Linked DNA regions of Homo sapiens: region 2 is linked to region 1. Evidence: fine-mapped expression QTL. A gene starts in region 1. The other region holds a variant in brackets. All regions are shown on one strand. Distances are between the middles of the regions.

Evidence for each region.
Region 2: its variant is fine-mapped to the expression of CORO2B in whole blood (TOPMed, PIP above 0.99). The same link has a PIP of 0.9 or more in blood mononuclear cells.

What each region holds. Positions count from the first base shown.
Region 1 is chr15:68,576,537-68,581,536 of GRCh38, forward strand. It overlaps CORO2B (coronin 2B), which reads left to right and starts at 2,457. Exons shown (of 12, transcript NM_006091.5): 1 at 2,457-2,741. The coding sequence starts at 2,727. RefSeq lists an enhancer at 2,645-3,512.
Region 2 is chr15:68,628,776-68,634,291 of GRCh38, forward strand. The region is part of intron 1 of CORO2B (coronin 2B); the gene reads left to right. Among named protein-coding and RNA genes, the nearest start is that of CORO2B, 53 kb to the left of the region's middle. The variant T/G (reference allele first, on the strand shown) is at 2,916.

The sequences.
Region 1 (5,000 bases):
CTCTGTAAGATATAAAAGTGGACAGACAAGTCACAGCCATGGGTGCAGGGTGACTGGTGTCCTTGAGTTGCCCTTTAAAGGTTTCCGATGGGGTCCTAGGGCTGGAAGGGCCCTGGAAAGGTCTTGAGCTCCATCCTTCTGGCTAGAGGCTGACCTGCCCAAGACAGCTGAGACAGGGAATCTGACTCTTCCAATGCTGGACAGCTCGCTGGTGGGAAATGCTTTCATGGGCCTAATTTAAATTTCCTCTGCTGCAGGTTAAAGGTATATTTTGCTTGATTTGTTCTTGGTGGCATTAAATATTTGCTAAGCTCCTACTATGTGCCCAGGGGTACACAGTGAGAGAAGGCATGCCTCTGTGCTCAGAGGCTCATGAAAATGAGACCAGACCCTCAGAACTAAATGCAACAGGGAGAGCCATTGGGCTGGAGTTGTCAGGAGAGGTGGCAAGGAGGTGGTGCCGTGAGAGGTGGGATGCGTTTGAGTTAGTGCAGAAGAATAAGAGAGCATTCCTGGCAGGCAAGCAACGTGGGAAGATGCCTTAGGAAGGGTTTTGCACAGAGGAGACGCCTGAGGTCTGCAGCACATCTGCTACCCAAGAGATTTAGTAAGTCCCTGGAACTCCCCTGGGGAACGAATAGCTGCCTACCTATGTCCTAAGACACCTGTGAAACTCAAATAAGGCAGCAAGTAGGAATGGACCCTGCAGTTCACGGATTCAAAGCACAATGCTGAGCTTGATTTAAGAAGACTTTCATTCAAGTCCTCGCTCTGTCACTGTGTGCTCTTGGGCAATTCCCTTCCCTTCTCTAAATCCGTTTACTCATCAGCAAAATGGGGACGGTAATTCTTTCCTCACACTGTTGCATTTAGGACTCCCAAGAAAATGTGGTTAAAAATGGCAGGGCCGGGGGCGGTTGCTCATGTCTGTAATCCCAGCACTTTGGGAGGCCGAGGCGGGTGGATCACGAGGTCAGGAGTTCGAGACCAGCCTGGCCAATACGGTGAAACCCCGTCTCTAATAAAAATAAAAAATTAGCCGGGCGTGGTAGCGCGTTCCTGTAGTCCCAGATCCTCGGGGGGCTGAGGCAGAAGAATCGCTTGAATCCAGGAGGCGGAGGTTGCAGTGAGCCGAGATCGCGCCACTGCACTCCAGCCTGGGCGACAGAGTGAGACTACTCCGGTCTCAAAAAAAAAAAAAAAAAAAAAATTGCACAATGACCCACAAAGCACTTCCTGGAGGCTGGTTACTCTATTATTATTGCTCCAATCTAGACACTGGTCTCCCGGAAGGCAGGCATCCCATCTCCTCTCTGTTCCCCCAGCACTTTCCACAGAGCAGGTGCTCATATATGACGTTGCCTTCGCTGTCCAGGTGAATTGCACCGGTAATTACCGTGGAGCAGGAAGCCAGCACTTCCGGGCTTGCCAGGCTGTCCTGCTTGGAGAACCCCTCTGCTTCCACCTCTGCTAACTCCTCCCCTCCACCCTCTCCGCGGTTCTGTATCTGCGGAAACCGGTTCTGCTCAGGTGCTTGGGAGGGAGACTCCTTTCTCAAGACTTGCGAGGTCACCTTCAGGTGACTGTCCCTCAAATCTCCGCAGCAGCTCCAGGACACACTGTGCCCCGAGTCAGGATTGGATCAACACACAGGACGCACCTGTGTTATCACTCCACCAGTAGAGCGGCACTCAGTGGTAGTGTAGACAGTCCTAGGGCAGGGCAGCTTCTATAACAAGAGGTTCCTTAGGGAGCTAGCGGCCGAGTGGAAAGAGCGGGAGGAACGGCTCGGGCAGGCAGGTCCTGTGCTGTGGTCTAAGTCACTTCCCACGTCCGTCCCACTCTGATCGTCAGTTTCCTCCTCTGCAAAACTCACTAAGGCGGCCTTCGGGCAAGTCATCGCGGCGGGAATTAGATTCGAAAGAGTGCTTACACAAATCCGTCTGGCCACCCTGTGCCCCGGGCCAGCGCGAGGTGGGGGTGCGGGCAGGGCTCCCGGGCTTGCGGCTGCCACGCCCCTCCCAGCCCGCCGCGCCACACTCACGGCCCACGGGCCGACTTTGCGAGCCTCCAGGGGGCGAACCCGACCGCCTTCTTTGCCCGCGCAGCGCCTCGGCCGTCCAGCCTGTGACTTCACCAGCGTCCCCGGGCCAGCGGGACACCCGAGAGCCCGGGGCGCCGCCCGTTCTCCCAGCCGGCAGGTGCCGGGAGCCAGCCTCGCCCAGCCGCGTGGCGTCCGCAGGCCCGAAGGGGTTAAGGCCGCGGACCCGGGCGCCCGTCCGGACTCCGGGAGCAGCGGTGCCCGGCGGCCGGCGATCGAGCGGGAGGCTCGGGGCACGGCCGCTGGCGGGCTGCGCTTCCTCCTCCTCCTCCCTCCGCCTCCTCCTTTGTAGCGAGTTCCCGGCCCCTCTTCCTCCCCCCGCCCCCCAGCCCGGGCCCTCTCCCTCTCTCCCTTTCTTCCTGCCTCGCCTTCCTGCGGCGAAGGAGGCTCATCTATTATAAATGCACATTCGGGGCTGACATCAGCGACGAGCGGCGGGCGAGCGCCGACGAGCGGTCCCTGCGCGCTGCCCGCCCGGAGCGCAGCCCCCAGGCTCGGCCGAGCCGCCGGCGGGGCGCGGGGAGCGAGCCGGGAGCTGCCGGACCCCCTTCCGCCGCCGCCCCGGGCCGCCGCCGCCGCCCCCGCACGCCGCGCCCGCGCCCCCGCTCCGCCGCGGAGTTTCTGCATGACTGTCACAAAGGTAAGCGCCGCTCGCCCGCCGCGCCCGGGACCCGCCGGCGCCTGCATCCCCCGGGCTAGGCTGCGGGGGGCGCGGGGGTGTGGGTGTGGGGAGGGGGCGCCGGTGCCGGGAAGGTGCGGCGCGCGCCTCTCTTGCTGCCGGATCCGCTCGAGTCACTCCGGCCCCCAAGGACTGCGGAGGCCAGGGGGAGGATGCCGCTCTGGCAGCCCCGGCGGTTTGGCCAACATCCCTCCGCGCCCGGCCCAACCCCGGGACTGCATTTTTAACCCTTGTTTGGGATGCTGCATTTTTAACCCCTGGAGAGCTGGGCTGGGCGGCTAGCGGTGTCCCTCCAGGGAGTGCGCGGCGGGAAGCGTCGCTGGCAGGGGCTGGTGCTGAGCAGTGGGTGTGGGGATGGGCCTGCCGCCCCGAGGAGGCCAGCGGAGGGGAAACCCCACCCCACCTGCCAGCCTCTGCCGCCCATGCCGGGAGCGCTGGCTCCACTCCAAAGCCACTCTGTGCAGAAGGCGCTGCCCAGTCCCGGGAGCCGCTACCAGAGACAGGGCAGGTCCAGGTGGTTGGCTTGAAGATGTGGGGAGGGAATGTGACAGGGGAAGCAAAGGTGGGCATCTTGGCAGCCCCCATATTGGAGGATGATTGTTGGGCCTTGTCATAGGGGCCCACGTTTATTGGAGAGACTTCAGGGGCTTCCTAGTTGTAGGGAGGAAAGAGTTAAGAGGAAAGATGATGGGGCAGTGGAAAGTGCCAGGGTCAAGGGACCAGGGAGACCTGAGTTCAATCCCAGCTCTATCCCAGATCCCCTGGATGACCTTGGTCGGGGAGGGGTCCACTTTGGGCCTCAGTTTCTTCTTGTGTGCTGTGAGGGTGATAATATGGGTCCTGGGTTGTGACAGGCTGTTAAAGAACCAATAACATCAAGGGTGTGAACCCACACTCTTCAGAGAGATCTGTCTGGGTACTGAGCTCACAGTCTGGCGGTGGCCTCGGGCTTGGCCGTCCATTCAAGGGCCAGACTCCACCCTTTCCAGCTGCCCAGCTGGGTCCCAGAATTGGGGAGCTGGAGGCCAAAGTGGGACCGGCAGCCCAGAGTGGGGTCAGATGGAGGGTCAGAGCAGTGGGGCCAGATGGAGGGTTGGGGTGCAAGTGATGGAGGTGGGGTGGTTTTGGCTCCTTCTGGTAAGCCAGGGCCTACCCTTGCCCTCCTGAGGTCTGCCCCAAGACTGAATGTTTGTGCGGATTCTTGGGCCCAACTCCAAACTTTGCCATTGGCCCTGGTTCTGGGACTTGGGAGCATTGTGAGAAGATGAACTTGAGGGTGCAGGGGCTTCCTCAGCTCTGGCTACTTCTGGCAGGGCTGTTGTGGCCCACCTGGGGTAAGATGCTTAGGGTTTTGAAATGATGCAAATGCTATTCAGCTGGGAGGGATATTAAGGTTATTAATGTCAAAGATGCAAGCAGGCTGGGACAGAGGAGTAATGGATGGGCCCGGCTAGAGAGAGAAAGGGTGTGAGGTTTTAATAATAGCGCTGAGGATTAACTCAGCGCCTCCCCTGTGTCTCTTTTTGTGCGCGAGCTCATGCAGCCTTCCTTCCCTGGAGGCCTGCAAGGAAGGTGTGTTCAGTTCTCTTTAACAGTGGAAGGAACTGAGGCTCAGAGAGGTGAAATGACTTGCCTGAGGTCACACAGCATGTATGTGGCAGAGCTGGGGTTTGCCCTCAAGTCTGTCTCAATCTATGGCCAGTGATCTTTGCACTGCTCTGCATCGTTGGGCATCCTGGCTACTGGGGGACTTCCATGGTAGAGGAGCACTGCTTGGAGACCTGAACCTTGAAGCAGGGATGGGACAGGGAGTCCATGAAAGTGGGTGCTTACCTGTTAAGCCCACTGGCAGGCCTAGCTTCTTGGTATCCAGTAACTATTCAACACTCCTCCACCCCCATACCCAGCCCCCAACAAACCCTCCATGTCGCTCACCTCCTGCTCTAACCAATGTGGCTTTGGCTTAAGCAAGCTCAGGGGATTAAATAAAATCCCCACCTTAACCCTATCTTCTCTCCCCTTGCTGGCCCTTCACAGACCAGCGTGTTCTTGTGGGGAACAGAGAGCAAGAGGGATGCAGGAAAGGCACTGGGGACTGCTTTGCTGTCTACAAGCCCGCTGGTAGTAGCTCTTCCAGTACCATAGGGAAAGCCACCATGCTCTGGAAGTCTGAAGGCCTGGCCCCTAGTCCTAAATTAGCCACCAACAGGCTGTGTGACC
Region 2 (5,516 bases), 52 kb after region 1:
CTCCGGAGTCTACATGGACTCACCCAGCCTCTCCATTCATTCCCTGAGGCTAAGCATTGCTGGGTACAAGAGGCTTTCTGCTGAGAGGGATGCCCTCAGTTTCCCATGTGATGTGGAAGATAAGGCAAGCTGGGGAAAGGGCAGGATGAGAATGTGGGAGGGAGGGACCACTGGGTCTCCTGGGACACATGTGCCATTTGCCTCCAGATGGGGCAGGGAGAAATGAATTGTAATTGGACAGCAGAGATGCTGTAACTTTATTTGGAGTTAGCAGAGGAGAGCCAGGAAGGTGAGACCAGCAAGGTCTGCTGGGGGAGCCATGGGATCATGCTGGGGAGTGCCGAATGTATCTTGCAGTTTTGCAAAGTTGTTGCCCCCTCAGTGGGGCTGCTCCACATTGGAAATTCTGCAGTAGTTCTGAATGAGTCAATGTCTGAGAAAAGCATTTAGATCAGAAGTTCAGGAGAATAATTGGAAAGGCTCCATTGCAGGTCTGCTGTGTGTGGTTGTCAGAGTTGTGCCCTGCACAAAGGCACCTGGCAGGGTGTAAGTGGGGGCTGAAATCCAGTCCACATTCCACTCACTGAGCCTGGAGCTGATTCTGTTGGAGGAAGAGGCGCCTTTCTCTATTCTCACAAACGTGCCCTGTGGACTGGAGTGGTCCTGACGCAGTGGAAGAGGTGAGGAGAGAGACTTTATCCCCAGAGGCAGATTTACAGAGGCCAGACTATGCCAGTGGTTTGGTACTCAGGCAACCAAAGCTTTGACTTTCACAGAAACCAGGAGGGCCCAAACAAAGAGCCCAGGTGCTGGGGATGAAACGATGTGCAGGGAAAGGCTATGCACTGAGCAGCTCCCAGGCCTTCTGAATGTCCTTATGAAATGGTCAGGGGACCAGCAGGAGGGTCAGTGACACGAGCAGCCTCAGTAGGGGTCAGATCAGGAGGACTTGGACGAGGCTGAGGCAGAAGCTAATTGAGAACCCTGACCTCATGACTGGGACCCAACTCGCTGTGGAGTCAGGAGCTTGGGCTCTTAACCAGCATGTGTGTGTGTGTGTGTGTCTGTGTGTGTGTGTTGTGTGCATACACACGCACTATGTCTAAGTGGACACCTTGAAGGAAAAGCACCCCAGTAGAAAGAGTCCTTTAAAAACCAGGAATCCAAAAGGATAGGTAATGCCCCTGCCAGAGGCACCCTGCCCTGGAGGAGTTGCCTGATGCCATGTTCTGTCACCCAGCATTGCCATTATGTTGGAAGGGAAAAGGGAGGGTGCTGGTGTTTGCTCAGTGCCCACCAGGCACCGTGCCAGATGTTCTGCATCCATTACCTCGTTTTCCTCTCCACCCCTCTTCCTCGTGGCTTCTGTAGCAATGACAGCATTCAGTTGAATAAAGAAAGAAAAAGAGGGAAAAAATCTCCTTTCAAGGCTCAGCAGTGTTGCTGGACCCAGGGGATGCTGTGTGGGGTGGTCGTGTGCAACGGGCAGCATGAACTTGACTATCGCTCCCTCGACCCAAGTGGTCATTGTTATCATCCCCTGAGCTGTGCAACTTTTCCGGCAACTGCATGGCAGGCACGGGCAGCCGCATCAGCACACCCCAAGGAACGGTGCTGAGGGATGAGAGAAAACCTCGAAATGAAATGTTTTTTTTTTGTTCCTGGCAGGGGCAGGCCTGCTAGGCTTGGGTGGGGCTCTGTGGTCTCTGGGCCTCCTTAAAATAGCAAAGTTCTTTGCTGTGGGGGCAGAAAGACCTCATGGGGACAGGTCACAGGCAGTGTTCAAAGACTCAGAGATCTACTACCCTGTTCCTTTTCTTCTTTATTTCCATCAGTTGGAATGCTTTAGGCTGCGAGTAACAAAGAAAGCCAACCAAGACTGACTCAAGCTCTAGGATTTTCATGGTTTTTCAAACAAGAGTTGCGGAGGAAGGAGGTCCTAGGTTTGGTCGGTGGCTCCACAGTGCCATCAAGGACCCAGGCCTCTTCTGTCCTTGTGGTCTGTCTTCTCATCATTTTGGCCTTTTGGTTGTAGGCTTGTTACCTCTTGGCCACAAAATGGGTGCCAGAGCGCCAGGATTTACATCCTCAAATGGAAGCAAAGGCGGGAAGCCGTGTGTGTGCCAGTATGCCAAGAAAGAACTTTTCTTATGTCTCTCTCCTCTTACTGAGACAAAAATCCTTCTCAGAAGCCCCCTAGTGGACTTCCTCCTAGGTCTCACTTGCCAGAACTGGGTCTTGGACCCTCTCCCAAGGGTGAGGGGTGTTCCCGTGGTGGTGCAGGGCGGTTGGGGGTAGGGGGTGCTGGGAATGGCAGGTACGAGTCCAGTCAGCAGATCTGCCTGCCTCCCTTCTCCAGGAGCTTGTCCCAGTGCTCCCAGGGAACACCTGGATGGCCGGGTTCTGCAGTGGTGCTTGACTCCCCATGTCCCCCAAAGGCCAGCCACTTGCCCGTCAGTGGGTTATGGATGGTCTCCATGTATAGGGCATTGTGAGGAAGACCAAGAGGGTGGAGACTGTCCTGAGAAGGAGGCAGTGTTGCCCCCATTTTTATAGATGAGAACTCGAGCTCCAAAAAGTTTATGAACTTGTCTAGGGCTTGTTATACATTTTGTAACATTTTACAGATGAGAACACAAGCTCCAAAAAGTTAATGAACTTGTCCAGTAGATACCTAGTAAGTGGTGGCGCTAGGATTTAAACCTGTGTCTGTCTGTGAAGCCATCCTCTGTTTGGCCCACTTTGGAACAGTGTCCTCTCTTCTTCCAGAATCTCAGCCAGGAAGTCGGCAACCTTTAGACTTCCTGTGCATTCCAGCTCTCAGAGCTGACACCAGGGCCCAGCTTACAGCCTCCGGGAGAAGTTAATCTCAACACGTGTAAAGAGAACCAACCAACCCTGAAGTACACACCAGG[T/G]GCCAGGGGGCAGGGTGGCAGCCAGGAAATGCTGCAGGTGTTCAGGGGAGGGTAGGTCCCTGGGGATGGGATGGTCAGAGACCCCGTGGGGCCAATTCGTTTACCTCTTGACATCAGTAGCTACACCAGAGAAGGTGCTGACACCTGCACAAAGACAGCCCCTCCTGAGCTGCCAGGAGGAGGTGCTCCTCGCAGTCAGTGTAAATAGGCTGCTGGAATGGCCCCAGATGGCCACCAGGGAGGGCCACATGCCATCCCTCAGCATCGCTGGAGTGGGCTCTCTCTTGGTTGCTAGCAACAGATTCTGTTGACCTTTAGTAATGAGGGAGGCAGGGCTAGAGGGTGACTAGCAGCCAGGCCTCCCAGGCTCCCAGGCCTCTCAGATGCCTGGAATTTCGGAGCTAGAAGGTAGTCAGATTCCCGTTATCTTGACTGCTGCAGCGGGGTCTCTGGGATGGTGATGTGAGTGCCTCCTGCACCCGTGGCCCCCATGTGGCATAACTCCTTGGGCGCTATTCATCCACACGGCCCATCTGTGCAGGGTACAGCCTTCATGGTCTTAGCTGGCAGCCCTGACAACTTGGATGTGCAAAGAAGATACAAGTTTGTTTCCTCTGAAGCTTGTCTGGTGTCATCCAGGAGCCCCACCTGGTAGGTAGCAGTGATAAAACGCATTCAGCTCGGTCCAGTAGAGTTGTGATGGAGTCAGCCAGACAGGACTCTTCATTTGCTAACACGGAGAGACAGAAGTTGAGAAACGTCCTCTCTCAACAATTCTGGCTCTTAAGATATTTTGTGGCTGCAGAATCCTATCTTGGATGTTGGAATGTGAATTTTTTTGAGTCCTGCTTTAACAGTCCGAACTCTCCCTGGATAATGGATGTCATTTGTTTATTTTTTAATTTTTGTGTTTTTTTGGAGACAGAGTCTTGCTCTGTCATCCAGGCTGGAGTGCAGTGGTGCTATCTTGGCTCACTGCATCCTCCACCTCCCTGGTTTAAGTGATTCTCGTACCTCAGCCTCCTGAGTAGCTGGGACTATAGGTGCGCGCTAGCACGCTTGGCTAATTTTTTGTATTTTTAGTAGAGATGGGGTTTTGCCACGTTGGTCAGGCTGGTCTCAAACTCCTGACCTCAAGTGATCTGCCCGCCTTGGTCCCCCTAAGTGCTGGGATTACAGGCGTGAGCCACCACACCCGGCCAATAAATGGATGTGAGTTAGGGGAGAGCAGGAAGGTTACACCTAGTAAATGCAGAACAGTGCACTAACATTATTTTTAAAATTACAGTGATCCCCTTTACATTCCTCTCTGACCTCTTCTCCATCTCTCTTCCCTCCGCTTATGGCTTCTGCCTCTGCCACCAACTAGTGGTGCAATGTAGCCCACATTTAAACCCTTCAAGGGGAGGAGCTGGTTGGTTTAGCTGTCACCATTGAGTGTGGGTCACTTCTATGGAGCAGAGCTGTGTGCTGGACAGTCATGCAGAATGCTACATGACCACCTAGAATGAGGCGGCCTCCCTTGTGAACTGGGGGAACAGAGGGCATTGTAGGGGAACTGTTGGCCACAGATCCCAGCAAGACTCCTCTTTCCTTGCTGGGTCCTAAATTAACTACTGGATTCTTTTTACAAGGCAGGGAGTGAGAGGTGGAGAACATCATGAGACAGTTATCACGGATGTTTTCAAACAAAAACCCATTGATTTCCTCAGTACCATTAAGTTTAATTTAAAAAAAAAGTTTCTGCTCTAGTTTCTAGACCCTCAGCTGGTGAGGCCCCTTGAATTGTTTCCAAAGTCCAAGAGGAAATGGTTACTCCAACATACACACACACACACACACACACACACACACACTCACTCCTTGGGGACAGCACAGGGTGGACAGTGCAAAGAATTTATCTCCAAGTAAGCTCTGTGCATGAGGCCTGGTATCTATTTCTTTATGGGCAAGTTGATTTACTATCCTTTTTTATACCCAAAATGATTAGCAGCAATATAAAGAACTTCAACTTCTCCTTTCTCACATTTGGGGCACTGAGAGATGGGCTTCCTTTTACTCTAACAGAGATACTACAACGGAGCCGGCAGATCGTCCTTCTCTTCCATGCCATCCCCTGGCTGTAATGTAGATAGATTATCTCTTGGGAAGGGGAAGGCCCATCACCAGTTACCACATTCCCCTGGGGACAGTTTATCAGTCCATCTTTTTCTGCATTGCCAGGTGACAGGGAGCAACGTCTTGGTCTGTGGGCCAGGGGCCAGGCCAGGCACTCTGAACACGGGATCCCGGTTATCCTGAGAGTCGGTCAGGGCATGTCACAGGCAGGGAGCCTCGGCAGTGGCAGCTATGCCTGGCATCTCCCCGGCTCAGCCTTTGGCCTGGACTATGAAACAGCCTTTTAAAAAAGTTGCTCAGCCTCACCTACCAAGAAGCCGGAGGCCATGAAGGAGGGGGTGAGGAGTAGGACCTGCTGTGGACAGAGAATAGGGCTGAAAACCAGAAGTCCTGGGTTTAACTCCACCAGCCCTTATTGAGCACTTGGTGTTTGCATGATCTTGTGCATGACAGTCTAGAAATGCAGAAGAAAGCCCTCGAGGG